Regions from separate parts of the Homo sapiens genome. Here region 1 is linked to region 2. The links come from fine-mapping of genetic effects on gene expression. A gene starts in region 2. The other region holds a variant in brackets. All regions are shown on one strand. Distances are from middle to middle. Region 1 overlaps CPEB3 (cytoplasmic polyadenylation element binding protein 3). Region 2 holds the start of MARCHF5 (membrane associated ring-CH-type finger 5).

Evidence for each region. PIP is the estimated chance that this variant, and not a neighbour inherited with it, causes the effect. A credible set is the group of variants that fine-mapping cannot tell apart.
Region 1: its variant is the best candidate, but not a certain one, in a credible set for the expression of MARCHF5 in whole blood (TOPMed, PIP 0.54).

What each region holds. Positions count from the first base shown.
Region 1 is chr10:92,049,013-92,057,347 of GRCh38, reverse strand. It overlaps CPEB3 (cytoplasmic polyadenylation element binding protein 3), which reads left to right. Exons shown (of 10, transcript NM_014912.5): 10 at 4,909-8,335. The coding sequence ends at 5,136. Among named protein-coding and RNA genes, the nearest start is that of BTAF1, 130 kb to the right of the region's middle. RefSeq lists an enhancer at 1-264. The variant A/G (reference allele first, on the strand shown) is at 3,838.
Region 2 is chr10:92,286,889-92,295,223 of GRCh38, reverse strand. MARCHF5 (membrane associated ring-CH-type finger 5) reads right to left here and starts at 4,057. Exons shown (of 6, transcript NM_017824.5): 1 at 3,695-4,057. The coding sequence starts at 3,729. CPEB3 (cytoplasmic polyadenylation element binding protein 3) reads left to right here and starts at 4,146. Exons shown (of 10, transcript NM_014912.5): 1 at 4,146-4,298. RefSeq lists enhancers at 3,117-3,695, 4,643-4,852 and a silencer at 3,833-4,082.

The sequences.
Region 1 (8,335 bases), 240 kb after region 2:
TTTCAGCCACCGCCACCCCAAGCCATGAGAAGTACTGCCAGGCCGTTAAGGCCCTAGGGCTCTTAAGTCAGCTCGTGGTAAGTACTGCCTGGCCTGCAACCCATATTTCAGGGCACTAGGCTCCCCTCTGGCCCAGGGCAGGTCCAGAAATGCCATTCAAGAGTCAAGTCCTAGAGTTGGGGACCCCAGGAGGCTGCCCAGTGCTCTACCCAACTGTGGCCGTACTGGTACCTGAAGCCAGCAAGTCTCAGAGGCTCACCCAAGGTCCTGGGTGTCACTGCTGGCTATTCAGGGCCCAAGGGCTCTTCAGCTAGCAGGTAATGAATGCTGCCAGGACTGGGTCCTTCCTTCAAGGCAGCAGGTTCCCTTCTGGCCCAAGGTGTGTCTAGAAATGTCACCTGGGAGGTAGGGCCTGGAAAAGGGACTTCACAACTCTGACTGAGCCCTATCCTTCTGTGGCTGAGCTGGTATCCAAGATGCAAGACGAAGCTCTTCCCACTTTTTCTTCTCCTCTCTTCAAACTGAAGGAAGAGGTCTCTTTTGGAGCCATGAGCTGTGCAGCCTGGGGTTAGGGCAGGGGTGATGCCACCACTCCCTTGGCTGATGTCTCAGTAGTCCACGTGCCCCCCGAATCCACTGTCTCTGGGCCTAGTTCAGCACTAGGACTCACCTAAGTGTTGCAGTCCTTATGGCCTAGACGGACTTTCAAGCTGATTTAAAGACACAGAGCACTGTAGCCCACAGTGGCGAGGTTTGGGGGAACTCAATTTCCCACTGCTGGAATCAGAGATTCCCCTCAGGCTTGGGCTGGTTTAAATGTGTGGTGATTCGGGACTATTCTTCTGACTCCTCAGTGCTTCTTTCAGCAATATGAAGATAAAACCAGGTACTACGAGGGCCTACCTGATTTTTGGCTCTTCTAAAGGTATTTTTTTCTGTGTAGATAGTTATTAACTTCCTGTTCTTGTGGGGCATGGGTCGGGTGGAGGTTGATGGGTGGAGACTTCTATTCTTCCATCTTGCTCTGCCTGTCTTCTGTTGATTTCAGTCCAGAAATACTGTTTGACTGTTGCTGTTTGAGAGGTCGTAGTAGCTAACTTGCACATCTGTGTTTGTGGAGCATCGTGGTGTGTGTCTTGTTTTTGGGCAAGCCTCTGCTCTTCAGACAACACCTCATGAACAGGTGCAGGAGCAGCTCTGCAGGGACAGCACCCTCGCTCATCTGGAAGACTGCCCTCTGGAAGCTTTCAGGAAAGGCCTCTGAGAGCACAGTCACAATCCAAAAGCCACGTTCTTTGTTTATTTTTACTATTATTACATATATATTTTTGAGACAGGGTCTCACTGTGTCACCCAGGCTGGAGTACAATGACACAATCTTGGCTCACTGCAGCTTCTATCTCTTGGGCTCAAGGGATCTTCCCGCCTCAGCCTCCCAAGTAGCTGGGACTACAGGTGCATACCACAACACATGGCTAATTTTTTTGTTGTTGTTGCCCAGGCTAGTCTCGAACTCCTGGGCTCAAAGGATCCTCCTGCCTCACCCTTCCAAGGTGTTGGGATTACAGGTATGAGCCACTGCACCCAGCCTAATTTTTTTTTCACCATATTAAGAGTCATATCTATTGGCATTTAATGTTCAGCTCTTCACAAACTTGATTTTTCTAGCTTTCTAGGCAAAACGAAAATGATGGGAAATTGCAAACTTAAAAGAGGTGTTTGGAAGGTGTTTTAGATATGATAGCAGACCACCAGCTTTTGAAGGGGGCCGACAGAAAAAGTGAAAACTCTCTACTGCATTGTATTACTTGGCATTCCTTATGAAGAATGTTCGTAATGTCTCCTGCTTAAGAGGGGGTGGGGGACTAGTACATTTTAGCAAGATTTTCATCAAAAAACATCAACATTCAAGATATGTTGGCACCAAAAAGGAGAAGTGCCTGGTTTCTGGAAGAATAACTTGAGGTATATGTTATTCCCTAAGAAAGCTGGTAAATAAGGCATCACTTTGTGCCTCTGGCCTCGAGGCAGTTATGAAAACCTTCATGACACATCTGAAATACTGTGTAGACTAGATCCCTCAAAACCCTTCAGGCAGTAAGGAGCATTGTTACCAAGCTTAGTTGGAAGCCCAAATAGACAGAAGGTGCTGTTTTATTAATACTGCATTTTCAAATATCAGCACAAATGTATTACATGACCTTACATATGTTTGTTAAGCATTTTACAGCTTGCAGTAGGTATTTGTATCCATCATTCCACTTGGTCCTAATATCCCTGTGTAATGGAAATCTTTTCTCATCAACTGATGGAGCACTAATTAAGTCTTTTTCATGGCTGCATGATATTCCATGGGAATAGATAACCCACATTTTATTCAAGTGTTTCCCTGTAGGTAGACATTTACTTTGCTTCTGATTTTTTGCCATTGTGGACAAGTCTTGCAATGGATATACTTTACATAGGTCCTCACATCTGGTGGCTATATTTCCAAGCATTGGGATTACAGCAGGAACAATATCCAACTGTGGGATTCTTGGGTCAAAGGGTATACATATTTTTAATTTGAATAATTTGCTAGTTTGCTTTTCAAAAATGTTGTAGCAGGCCAGGTGTGGTGGCTCACTCCTGTAATCCCAGCACTTTGAGAGGCCAAGGCAGGTGGATCACCTGAGGTCAGGAATTTGAGACCAGCCTGGCCAACACGGTGAAACCCCATCTCTACTAAAAATATAAAAATTATATTTGGGTGTGGTGATGGGCGCCTGTAATCCCAGCTACTTGGGAGGCGGAGGCAGGGGAATCGCTTGAACCTGGGAGGTGGAGGTTGTGGGAGGTGGAGGTTGCAGTGAGCTGAGATTGCGCCATTGCACTCCAGCCTGGGCAACAAGAGTGAGACGCCGTCTCAAAAAAAAAAAGATGTAGCAATTCATATTTCTATCAGCAAATGATGAGAAATAGTTATCAGTCTTTTAAATGTTTGCCAGTCTGATGAGAATAAAATGGCATCAGTTTTTCTCCTGACTACGAGTAAATATGAACATCTTTTTTTTTTTCTTTAAGAGCCAGGGAAACAGTATGCTGCTCAGGCCAGGCTTGAACTCCTGGGCTCAAGTGATCCTCTCACCTCAGCCTCCTGAGTAGCTGGGATTGCAGCTGCTTCCCACCACAACCAGCTAATACAAATATTTTTATGTGAATTGTCTGTGAATTCTTATGTGAATTATTCTCTATGCATTTCCCCATTGAGTTGTATATCTCCAAAGAAGATATACAAATGGACAACAAGCACATGAAAAAAATGCTAAACATTGTCAGTCATTAGAAAAATGCAAATCAAAACCACAATAAGATACTATTTCGACCAGGCATGGTGGCTTACGCCTGTAATCCCAGTACTTTGGGAGGCTGAGGCAGGCAGATCACCTGAGGTCAGGAGTTTGAGACCAGCCTGGCTAACATGGTGAAACCCCGTTTCTACTAAAAATACAAAAAATAAGTCGAGTGTGCCAGGCATGGTGGCTCACGCCTGTAATCCCAGCACTTTGGGAGGCCGAGGCGGGTGGATCACGAGGTCAGGGGATCGAGACCATCCTGGCTAACACAGTGAAACCCCGTCTCTACTAAAAATACAAAAAATTAGCCAGGCGTGGTGGCGGGTGCCTGTAGTCCCAGCTACTCAGGAGGCTAAGGCAGGAGAATGGCGTGAACCTGGGAGGCGGAGCTTGCAGTGAGCCGAGATCGTGCCACTGCACTCCAGCCTGGGCGACAGAGCAAGACTCCATCTCAAAAAAAAAAAAAAAGAAAAAGAAAAAAATTAGCCGAGCGTGGTGGCGC[A/G]CTCCTGTAATCCCAGCTACTCGCGAGGCTGAGGCAGGAGAATCACTTGAACCTGGGAGGCAGAGTTTGCAGTGAGCCGAGATCGCACCACTGCACTCCAGCCTGGCGACAGAGTGAGACTCCATCTCAAAAAATAATAATTAAAAAAAAAAATGATAAAGTTAATGATGTTTCTTTTCTAAAGTTTTAGGAAAGGAAAGTGGGTGAGAACGTGGTAACTTTTTTCTTTTTTTGGTTTTCAGTCATGCAGCTTTGCTTCGTTTAGATTTAAAAAGGTTCCCTAAAGGGCTATGATGAAAAGTTGTCGTCTATTGAAGTTTCCAGTGTTGGGGGGAGATTAAGTCAACAGAGAAAGTTCCAAAAATAAAAAAGCCCCAATTATTATAGTAGCTTCTTAACACCTCAGCTGTGAGTCCCTTTTCCTCTCCAGTCCATGGTATGCAATGTTGGGGTGTTAGTCTCAGGGAGCTGTGTCATTACGACACTGAGGTGCACAGCCTCACAGCAGCATCTCCCTTCAGCTCCTCCCATATTCATTGTGCCTCTTGCCCTCGGGCCTGGCTTCAGCTACAGCATCTCCCAAGGATGTGCCTGCCTCCTCCTGCTTATGGCCTTTGTCCTGGCTGCTTCCTCTCCCTGCAATGTTCTTCTTTGCCTGCATTGTCAGATGCTGCCCGGCTTTCAGGATTCAGCTCATGCGCTTTGACGTGCACAGCCCCTCTTAATCCTCCCCAGCACCCTTTGATGTAAACACTGTTATACCCATTTACAGATTACACAAATGTGTGTGTGTAATGTGTTTATGTGTGTGTAAACATACCCATTTTACAGATACAGTGATAGAGCAAACAGAGGCACAGAGATTTTAAGAATTTGTCTAATATCACGCAAGATGTAAATCAAGGAGCTTATTCCAAAGCCCATGCTCTCAACCACCATCCAGTATCAGCAGAGTTGAAAGCAGCGTCTGATTGAGACATACGTTGAAGCTATAGTGTAAACTCTCAAAAGCAAGACATGTAAGGAAGCTTTGCTAAATCATTTTTCTCTGTCTTTCCTCTTTGGGTCCAGGTTGAAGTAAAGCCATATGTGCTGGATGATCAGATGTGTGATGAGTGCCAGGGCACACGCTGTGGTGGGAAGTTTGCCCCGTTCTTCTGTGCCAACGTCACCTGTCTGCAGTATTACTGTGAATACTGCTGGGCGAGCATACATTCCCGAGCCGGGCGGGAGTTCCACAAACCGCTGGTGAAGGAGGGAGGCGACCGCCCTCGTCACGTCCCGTTCCGCTGGAGCTGAGCCACGGGCCGACCCAGCCACAAGTACTGGAGTAGATAACAAGGAGGGAAAAGAGAGGGCACTGCCTCAGGGCTTACAGTGTTCTGGAAATCTGTGCATTCGTTCTCGATTTTTAAAGAAGAATTGGGTCTTTTTATTATTATTATTATTATTTACAGTCATATTACTGAACTCAGTGTCCAGTATAATGCAGAATTGCAGAGTGTAGAATGGTACTGATTTGCACTTTGATTCACACCTTTGTCTGCTTGGTACCTTAATTTTTTATACCTGATTTGTCACTCGTGACAGTATGTAGACTGCCATTCTCATCAGCGGCCGTCAGGCTACTGTCTGTGATTCTTTTGTTTGTTGTTGTGGTGTTGTTCTGATTGTTTTGAACTGGAGCATGCACTTATTTTCAGAAACTTAGAGAGTTGCCCCTAGGACAAGACTTACCAAAGGTAATACTCGTGAGTAGGTGGCAGATGTAGCAAAAACTTCACAACAATTCAGCAATCATTAGCTCGGGTCACTTAGAGTAAGGATAACCCTTCATGAAAATAAGCCTTTAGTTGCTCTCTATTTTGACTTGTAAGGATACCTCATAAGCTGGATCTTTTATTTTTCCTTCATGTTTGATTTTTGTTTTGCCGAGGATTTTGGTTAGATCTTTTAGTATTATGTAAATTTATGCTGCAATAGCTTTTGCTGCTATTAAAATGGTATTATTAATACCATAATACTCTATTCAGGCTAGGATATCAATTAAACACAAAAACCCAACAACACACTTTTGTGATTTTAGGGATAGAGTCAGCTGCCGAACGGAGATCAGAATAGACTTCAGAAAGCTTCGGTGGAAGGTCACTATTTCTGACTGCATGTTTACTTAATCAGGTTGCTGCATGCAATAAATTTTATATCCAATGTCTAGTATAAAACGTTCCCACAATGCACAAATTAAGAATCTATATAAGCTATAAAAATACTCATTTTTTAAAAAAAGTTTTTTTCATTCAAAGAATTGGTAATTGACCGGAGGAAGGCATGCCTCAATAAATGGAATGCTCTGAATGGGAAGAGCCCATAACAGAATGACCTATATTACAACCGATATAAAACCTAGGTGTAGGATATTCTTCAAGCAAATTTGTGGATGGTAGATGAAGTACTTTGCGGTGCTCTGTTATATATTGTGAAATTTATTTTATATAGTAAAGTGATTATGTCTAACTGTGATCAAACTTAACTGTTTAAAGCCTCTGTCAGACATTAATGAACTTGACAGTTCATAACTGATATATTATAAACTAACACATGAGCTCTTAGTTACAATCTCTTAGTGCTTGCACCATTTTACATAGCTTCAGACCTTGTCCAGAAAACCAAAGAGCTCATCTTAGCTTACAAACACTAAGAATATATACAGGATATAGAGATAAGTTGTCAGATTGACAAACTAGGCACATTTTTAAGAAAGTTGTGTAATGGTGATGCTAAAGAAATGTCTGTACAAAATAAGATGGCCTGGGCAGAGTTGGTTGTCTGAGTGAGAAACTAACTACTTAATTCCCTGGATTTATCCTGTTAAGCTTGAGTAGAATGAAGGCCTGCTAGCACTAGCGTGGTCTAGAATGAAGGCCTGCTAGCACTAGCGTGGACATTTTTCTAGCATTCACCCTTGGGCTGCAGATAGTAATATATAAACACACACAATGATTGCAAGACTATGTAAATCTTTTTTTAATCTTCTTCCTATGTTTTGGAATTCTGGGGACAATCTGACTGGATATGACACTGCAGAATAGATTTAAGTCGCTGTGTTTTCTGTGCTGTGATGTCCTTGTACTGTCTTAAGTTAGTGTTGCTTGTTTTTGTTTTGTTCTCCCATGTTTAGTTGCAATTACTGGCTCTCAAGCTATAGTTTGTTTTCAAAAAGGAAAAACAAAATAGTTTTTTACTGGATTAAAAATGCTTATTTTAGAATCCTCCCCTTTTTGAGGCTTTTTGGTAATAATTGCTTTTTTCCAGCCCAGGTGTGGTTTTGTTTGTTTTTTTCTATGTTTGTGGGTTTTTTTTCATCTGTACAAGAAATTTTGTTATGCACTACTACTTTTTGTATTCTAGACAGTTTTCAAAAGTTGGCAGATTTTTTTTTTTGTTTTTAAGGAAAAAGGCATGCTTTCTGACTGACATGATCTTTTGCAATACCTCAATTTTGAAATATAGGAAAGAAAATGATATTTTCTAAGTAAGTTTATTCAGAAAAATATATATTAATTTAATTCTGCAAGAAAATGATTTAACAGATGGGTAACTTTATTTTTTTCATGCTTATTTGTGTTTTTTGAAAATGAAGAAGTTAGAGCTTTATAACTATAATATTAAAGATCATATCTAACCTACAGAAATCTACCTAATTATGTGAAAGAAGCAAAACTTTTTGAAGAAGCACCCCTCTTTCATGTATTAAAATAACACTGAGATTTTTTTAAAAGCTGGAAGATTGTACAGCATAAAGCTAAAGTGAAGGCAAAAAACATTGTCCTGAAGAATAGGTTACAAAAAATAAACTCCATTTGGTGCTGAAAGTTGTGAATAGATGGTGGAAACTACTTTCCCTTAATTTGTATATTTCTAATCAAGTGTTGATTGTGCGCGACTGACCAGGATTGTGAAAGAGTTCTTCTGTTTGTATTTTTTTAAAGAGAACTTTTTTAGTTTATTAAATTATAACATGTTCCCTTTTGTTTTGTAAATAAATGTGCCCCCAAGTTGTTAATGTTATATTAAAAGAGAGGGTCCTTCAAAAAAATTATTTTTTAAAACACAGAGGTGTTCTGACCTGCAACTTGACTGGGAAGCCCCTGGGTAACACAGGTCCTGCTGTGGCCTTTCCTTGGTGTGACACTTGAACTAGTCGATTTTTTGAAGGCTATAACCTAACCTCGACTATTTGTTGTTATGTGCAATACTGTTTGTACTGTTTGTATAAAAAATAGAAAAAAAAAAGAAAAGAAAAAAGGCATAAATCTTTATTGCAGATTTATTTTCATTGCAAACTTTAGACATTGTGATTCACTGAAATCATTTTTCTACTGTCAAATATGTACCTTTTCTTCATGCTGGTATTTTTTCAATAGTAATGTAGCCTTTGTACTGAGACAAATTTTCATTGTTATTTTTAGAAAGATTTTTTGCTAAGAAAAAAATTAAA
Region 2 (8,335 bases):
ACAGTTTAGACAACACAAACACCCCTGGAATTGAAGCTCCATAAGGGCATTTTTGTTATGTTCAATTCACCACTATATACCAAGGGCCTAGAATAGTACTGGGCATATGAAGACACTCAGTATTTGTTAAATAAATTCAATAAGTGTAAATGTTTAATAATTGATTTACTGAAAAATAACATTTTTTTTTAAGACAGGGTCTTGCTCTGTTACCTGGGCTGTAGTACCCAGGGGCACAAACACAGCTCACTACAGCCACGACCCCCAAGGAATCCTTCCACCTCAGCTTCCTGAATATTTGGGACCACAGGCATGTGCCACCAGGCCTGGCCTAATTTTTAACATTTTTGTAAAGACTGAGTCTTGCCATGTTGCCCACACTGGTGTCTAACTCCTGGGCTCAAGCAATCCTCTCATCTCGGCCTCCCAAAGTGCTGGGATTACAGGCATGAGCTACTGTGCCTGGCCTAAATAAAATACGTAACTTAACCTAAAAGCAACAGAACAATATGTAACACACAGTTCCTTAGTCTTCACGAAGATAAAACCTGCATTAAAGAAATAAACAAATGAACAGTTATCTGAGCTAAATTCTGTCCCTCAAAAATTGCCACCAAAAACCAGGTTGGGGAGAAGCCAAATTCATGAAAAGAATTCTGGGTCCTAATAGGCTGACATATTTTAGTCTCTTGGCCCTGTTGGTATTCCTCAAGTGAACCATGTTGAGTATCTTTGTGTTCAACTTGCAGTAGGGCCAGCCCAGGTGAAGAAAGCTGTAAACATAAAGTAGATGGGGGAAAAATGGCCAAACTGGTTTACATTAGTCTTAAGTGCCTTCTATTTGGCTAACATAGAGTGTTTTGCTGTTTTATAGAGATGTATGTTTCATTTGCTGTAGCCCTGTGAAGTAGGGTTCTCATTTTATAAATGATAATATACATAGTGTCAGAATCTAAGTTCAAAGTCACATAGCTAGTAAGTGGCAAAATTCGAATTTCATACTTTCTATCTCTGAGCCCAAGCTTTACTCACTATACCCTACTATCTCTTATCATGAAAGATATCACTGACTTAGGACTTAGGGCAGTAGGTTTCTGCCATATCTAAAACATTTAAAAAGCTTTAAAATATAGATGCCCAGGCTCTACCCTACAGAAATTTTTGATCTTATTGGTCTTACAGTCCAGCATCCATGCATATTCTGAAATGCTCCCCAGGTAATTCTAACATGGAAGTAGGTTGCCAACTACTAATCTAGACAATAACGGTCTTTGAAAGTCATGTTAAAAATCTACCTTAAGGTATGTCAAAAGAGTACAAAGATGAGAGTAGTACAAAGATGAGAGTAAGCCAGTGTCATAGTCACCTACTTCAGTAAATGGCAGCCAGAATCTTCGCATTTCTGTTAATAAGTTTTAAATGCCTCACTAGCTTTTTTTTTTGAGATGGAGTTCCACTCTGTCACTCAGGCTGGAGTACAATGGTGCGATCTCAGCTCACTGCAACCTCCGTCTCCCAGGTTCAAGCAATTCTCATGCCTCAGCCTCCCGAGAGTTGGAACTACAGGCCCACGCCACTACGCCTGCCTAATTTTTGTATTTTTTTTTTTTTTTTTAGTAGAGACAGGGTTTCACCATGTTGGCTAGGCTGGTCTCAAAGGCCTGAGCTCTAGTGATCTGCCTGCCTTGGCCTCCCAAAGTGCTGGGATTACAAGGGTGAGCCACCGTGCCCAGGCTCACTCTTTGGCTTCTTACTTTTATGGAAATATCCAAAGAGCATATGAAAAGTTAGGTCAGCTTTTGGACATAAGAACTTTTCTAGGCTGGGCACGATGGCTCATGCCTGACAATCCAGCACTTTGGGAGGCTAGGCGGGAGGATCACTTGAGCCCAGGAGTTTGAGACCAGCACAGGCAACATGGCAAAACTCTGGCTCTATAAAAATACAAAAAATTAGCTGGGCATGGTGGTATGTGTTGTGGTCCCAGCTACTAGGGAGGCTGAGGTAGGAGGATCACCTGAGCCTGGGAGGCGGGGGTTGCAGTGAGTTGAGATCATGCCAATGCCACTGCCACTGCCACTGCATTCCAGTCTGGGCAACAGAGACCCTGTCTCAAAAAAAGAAGAAAAAAAGTCACTATGTAAAAATGAAAAGCAGGAGGCCCTCAAAGGAAAAAAATTAACTACAAAATACCCCACATCAGAACAGGGTCTCAACAGAATAGAACTGGCAGTGGCAGGTGGTTTCCTCTGGGCATATTTTAATTTGCCACAATTTGCCAATTTACAATGAAAGGAAAACCTGGTAAATTATCAGACCCCCTAGACAACTGGGGAAACTGACAAATAAGTTTGTGCATTAGTTCATACAACAAATACTTACTGATTACCTACTGAGTACCAGGCTCTGTTCTGGGATTCAAGATAAACAATAGTAAGTTTCTGCTTCCAAGAGCTTATAAACCACACACATATCACACACATATATATATAAAGCAGTCAATACAATTGTCAGGATGTTGACCTGAAACAAGGGCTGGATGAATCACCAGTTATCTCAACTGAAAAAAATCAGTGACATAATTCCTATTAACTGAGATGGCTCAAAATTCTAAGCTCCAAAAAAATGTCTGTCACTCTGGAAGGATGTGTACCCTTGGGTCATTTGTGTTCTGGGTGTGGCAGGCCCAAAAGCATTTAACTGGGTATAAACTCAATTAAGGGAGGGCCTTCATTTAACACCTTACAGTTGGAATTTTACTGAGTACAAAGAGTTGGTACCACCTGCTGAAATGGGTGGCAAGTGGTGTCTATTGAGAATTGTAAGCAACCACAAACATCATGAATTAGCTTGTACAACTTGCTATGCCAGGAAGTAAGACTTGGCTCGGGGGAAATGTGGATCTAGAGTCTCCAAAAACTCATGGTAGGACCCACGGACCAGAATTTCAACAGCAGAGGGCGGTGCACCCGACTTCACAAAGAGTTTTACCGACTGGGGCCCCCCAAGAATGGGCAACTGGACTCCTGTACGAGCTGAAACGTCTTCAATGAACTCAACGATCGTCAAGTACACTAAATGTTCAGCGTTGGACTCATTTGGCTGTTTTCCATAACCTCTACTCTGGTCTGACCGTTAAATCTCCCTTGCGGATACTCTGACCTTACAGTTCGGAGGTGGGGACGGGATGGGGCGGGGGGGACGGGGGGTGCGGGTTCAGGGAAAGTGGGAGAATGAAATCAGCCTATCAGGCTTTCCAAAAGAATGCTTATCATTGGTTCTCAGACAGAGACTTAAAATTATAAGGGGGTCATTCCCCTGAAAGATAACCCGGTTCTTGCCAGTGACATCGCTGACAAACACTTCACAAGTTGGGGAGGGGGAAGGGGGAGGGGAAGAGGGTAAGGAAAACTAATTTTGTGGATTAACAGGAGTCCCTCTCAGGTCAAAACGGGGTTCCAAGGAAACCAGACGCCACTCCTTAGCTAAGTTTCACCCAAAGTCTACGACCCAGGCCGCTCGCTCTGTCCTCCCCCAGGTCTAGACTCCAAACTTTTTGCCCCTCTCACGGCCCCCTGGCCGTGGAACTCCTCCCGGCACGCCGGGTTCTGCTCACCAAGAGCCTCGAGGGCGGGCGCGGGCAGGGCCAGAGCGAGGGTCGGCGGCTCCCGGTCCCCCCCACAGCTGCCCGTACCTGTCCAGCATCTGCTGTAGGGCTTGGTCCGGCATCTTCCGCGGAGCCGGCGCACACGGCCTTCCCCAGTGGACCCGCTCAAGGCCAGGCCCAGGGACAATAGCACTGAGAGGCGGCGGAGTAGGCCGCAGTCCGGCGGCAGCCGCGAACCCGTCACCCAGCTTCCCGGGGCAGCTCCGCTAGCCTGGCGGCGGCGGTGCAGGGCCTGCGGGAGTCCGGCGGAGGCGGCGGAGAGCGAGGAGGAGGAGCCTGAGGCGGGGAGGCGGCGATCGCGGCCCGGGTTCCCGTCCGTCGGCCCGAGGTTCCGGTCCATGGACCGCGGGCGCCGAGTTGCTGCCGGCGGAGGAGCTACCTTTGTGAGGTAAGAGTCGCCGCCTCCGTGCGCGCCAGGGTTACGACGCAGGGCGGCCCAGAGCAGCCTGGGAGATGTAGTCTTCGGACCGTCTCCACTAGAGGCTGCACAGCCCGCCCGGACCAACGCCTCCGCGCCTGCCGCCGTCTGGCCGGCGCCCTCCCGTTTCCTTCCTCCAGGGGGAAAAAATGTCTTTCGGGCCGCTTTCCAGGAAGCAGCAGGATGCGCCGCTCCACTGTCGGTAGCAACAAGGTCAGCCCTCCCTGCCTGTTTGTTTTTGCCTCCGCTCTTGCCCTCAGGTGGGACCGAGCCAGGTGAGGGGAGGGGGCTGAAGGGCCATTTCTTATCAGGGTCCCCGGCCCCGGCCGTGGCGTCGGGGCGGTCAGTGGCGGCAGTGGGGGTGGCAGAAACTCCTTCCGAAGCCCCCGGCGCTGGAGCCAGCCTCTCCTGCGGCAGAGCCCATTTTGGGGGAATTACACCACCTCCGCGAGGGGTCGGTTGGTTTGGTGCGTGAGGTTCTTCTTGAGGGGGCGGGCAAATAGGGACTGCCTGGACCAGACAGCTTCCACCCGAGTCTCTCTGTGTGTTTGGGGCTGGGGAGTTGGGGGAAGGAAAGATGATTCTCTCCCTCTCCAGGAACCTTCTCAAATGTGCCTGGGCTTTCCAGGGCTCGCCGACAGTCTCCAAATGGAACACGTTGGTGAATAAACAGCTCTTGCTTACTCAGCTGTGGGTTGTCAGGGATGTTTGTTTCTCTCTCTGCTGCTGGTCACTGTTAACCGTTTCTAGTCGCGTTGACACCTTCAAGCAGGTGGATTGGGAGTGGCGGGGGTGGGGAATCAAAAAGGAGAAATCATCAGTCACTCCTTGGGTCAGCTTCTGACGTTCGAGGGATAGCTTTGGCGGGAGGAAAGAGCTGTCGGCTCAAACGAATGCGTTTTTTGGACGACCTGTGGCGTTTTCTCTAGGGCTGTGATTGGTAGGACGCTGGTAGTTTTCCCTTGATTATGTCTAATATCTGCTACAAGGTGTTTGATTTTTTAAAAAATGAAAATGTGTTTTTAAAGCTCTTTTTATATGTAGAATTTTACAATCAACTTTTCATTATCTGTTCAAAATTTGCGAAGTATATTTGAACTAGAGTGTTCATTGCTGGGAAAAAACAACAAACCCAAAAAATGTGACCAGAAGCTTACTTGGCCTCCAATTTTTGAAATATGTTTTTGAGAAACAGCACCCACCCCCCCCCACCACACACATACACACACACTCCTCCTAGGGAAAGAAAATGAGTATTTAGTTTAATCGGGGTGTCTAATATTTTATATATATTTGTATTATATATAATATATATGTATTATATAATATATAATACATTTATAATATATAATACATATATACATTTATAATATATAATACATATATATATATATATATATATATATTTTTTTTTTTTTTTGGTAGAGACGCGGTCTCGCCATGTTGCCCAGGCTGGTCTTGCAACTCCTGGGCTCAAGCGAGCCACCCGCATTGGTCTCCCAAAGTGTTGGGATTACAGATGTGAGTCACCGCATGTGACCAGTGTCTAATATTTTATTTAATTAATTCATTTATTTAATTAATTCATTGATTTTGAGAGATGGAGTCTTGCTCTGTTGCCCAGGCTGGAGTGCAGTGGCGCTGTCTTGACTCACTGCAAGCTCCACTTCCTGACTTCAAGTGATCCTTCTAGCCTCAGCTTCCCAAGTAGCTGGGACTACAGGTGTGTGCCACCACACCCAGCTAATTTTTGTGTTTTTTAGTAGAGATGGGGTTTCACTATATGTTGACCAGGCTGGTCTCGAACTTCTGACCTCAGGCGATCAGCCCGTCTCGGCCTCCCAAAGTGCTGGGATTACAGGGGCGAGCCACCGCGCCTGGTCTATTTTATTTTTTTGAGACGGAGTCTCGCTGTGTTGCTCAGGATGGAGTGCAGTGGCACTATCTTGGCTCACTGCAGTCTCCTCCTCCGGGTTCAGGTGATTATCGTGCCTCAGCCTCCGGAGTAGCTGGGATTACAGGCTCGCACCACCATGCCTGGCTAACTTTTGTATTTTTGGCAGAGGCAGGGTCTCACCATGTTGACCAGGCTGATCTTGAACTGATCTCAGGTGATCTGCCTGCCTCGGCCTCCCATAGGGCTGGGATCATAGATGTGAGCCACCGTGCACAGCCCGGTGTCTTAACATTTTAAATTATTATTTTTTGCTCCTTGTGCTGTGTCAGTCTAACCTTATTGTGTACTTATTTCTTAAGCAGTTGTCAGCCATGGGAGTTGGATATATACTTCCTGCTTAAAAACAGAATTTTATCCCAGCATATGGATTAAGTACACTAGTACAAACTCCAAGATTCTAAGATCTTAACCAATGTTAGAATGTCTGTTTCAACTGAAATTGGAAAATATGATACCTTTTGTTGATAGCAAAGACTTGTGCACCTTGACCTTATTATACCAACAAATGGATTTTATGTTTGCATTTTTATGAAAAATCAGCTTTCTGGCTGTGTCAAAAACCTTTTAAAGTAGAAAAAAATCCTGTTACTGGTCTAAAGAGTGATTAGCATGTGACCCAGTAATTCCACTTCTAGGTATTTTCAAGAGAAATGAAAACATGTCTACACAAAATCTTGTTTGTGAATGTTCATAGCAGCATTATTCTGGGTTTTTTTTTTTTTTTTTTGAGACAGAGTCTCGCTTTGTCATCCAGGCTGGAGTGCAGTGGCGCCAGCTCACTGCATCCTCAGCCTCAGGGGCTCAAGCACTCCCCCTGCCTCAGCCCCCCAAGTAGCTAGGACTACAGGGGCGCACCACCATGTCTGGCTTAAAAAAATTTTTTTTGTAGAGATGGTGTTTTGCCATGTTGCCCAGGCTGGTTTCGAACTCATGAGCACAAATGATCCTCCCACCTCGGCCTCCCAAAATGCTAGGATTACAGGCATGAGCCACAGCACCTGGCCTACAGCATTATTCTTGATAGCCAAAAAGTGGAAACCCAAATATCCACCAGTTGATGAATGGATAAACCACATGTGGTGTATCATACAATAGAATATTATTAGGAGAAAACAAGGAATAAAGTTATGATACATGCTATAACATGAAAGAACCTTGAAAACATTATACCAAGTGAGAGGAGCCAGTCACAAAGACCACATATTGTATGATTCTGTTTGCATGAAAAGTCAAGAATAGGCAACTCCATAGAGACGGAAAGTAGACTAGTGATTGCATAGGGCTGAAGGAGTTGGGGAGAAATGGGGAGTGACTGCTAATGAGTATGAGGTTCCTTATTAGAGGGATGAAAGTATTCTAGAATTAGATAATGGTTCTGGTTATATAATTTTGTGAATTATATCACAAATAAGATAAAATTAGATTATGGTAATAGTGGCAAAACTGTAAATATACTCAAAAACCCATTGTACACTTAAAAGGGGTGAATTTTAATGTTACATAAATTACATCTCAATAAAGCTTTTAAAAGAGTAATTAGCTCCACAGAAAATGTTCATAAGGGTATCTGAAAAGAAGCATATAAACAGATAACTGATAATTCTTTATTATCAACTTTGTTTCTTATTAGTATGGGCAAAAATAGTGATTGATAAAACTCAGAAAATAAATTAATCCTAACATTTGAAATGGGTGACACATATTGTGTGAATTTCAATATTGTTTGTCAGCTTTGTTTTTTGTGGTCTTACATTTTCCAATAAGACTCAGAATAATTGGAATTACAATATATTCTCTGATTTTGAAGGAAAAAAGTCTAGATTATTAAGACCTTAATCTGACCAAAACCACATTGAAATGCACTCCTGCATTTATATGTAGGGTTGAAAATCTATGATAGTGGCGCATACCTGTAGTCCCAGCTACTCAGGAGGCTGAGATAGGAGAATCGCTTGAACCTGGGAGGCGGAGGTTGCAATGAGCTGAGATCGCACCACTGCACTCCAGCCTGGCAACAGAGTGAGACTCCGTCTCAAAAAAAAAAAAAAGTCTATGATAAATGATATTCAGCCAAGAGAGTAACCAGCATGACTATAGACAAAAACAACTTTTTCCTCAGAGATATATTTTGAAATAGAAATTAACCTACAGAAAATATTTAAAGATTCTCCCAAGTTCAGAGGACAAGAACAAAGCTTGATGATGTAGAGTTCTAAAGAGTTGGGATTATAGGCGCACACCACTATTTTAATAATTCTGTAATGGATTTAGAGATAACTGAGTATGAGCTGCT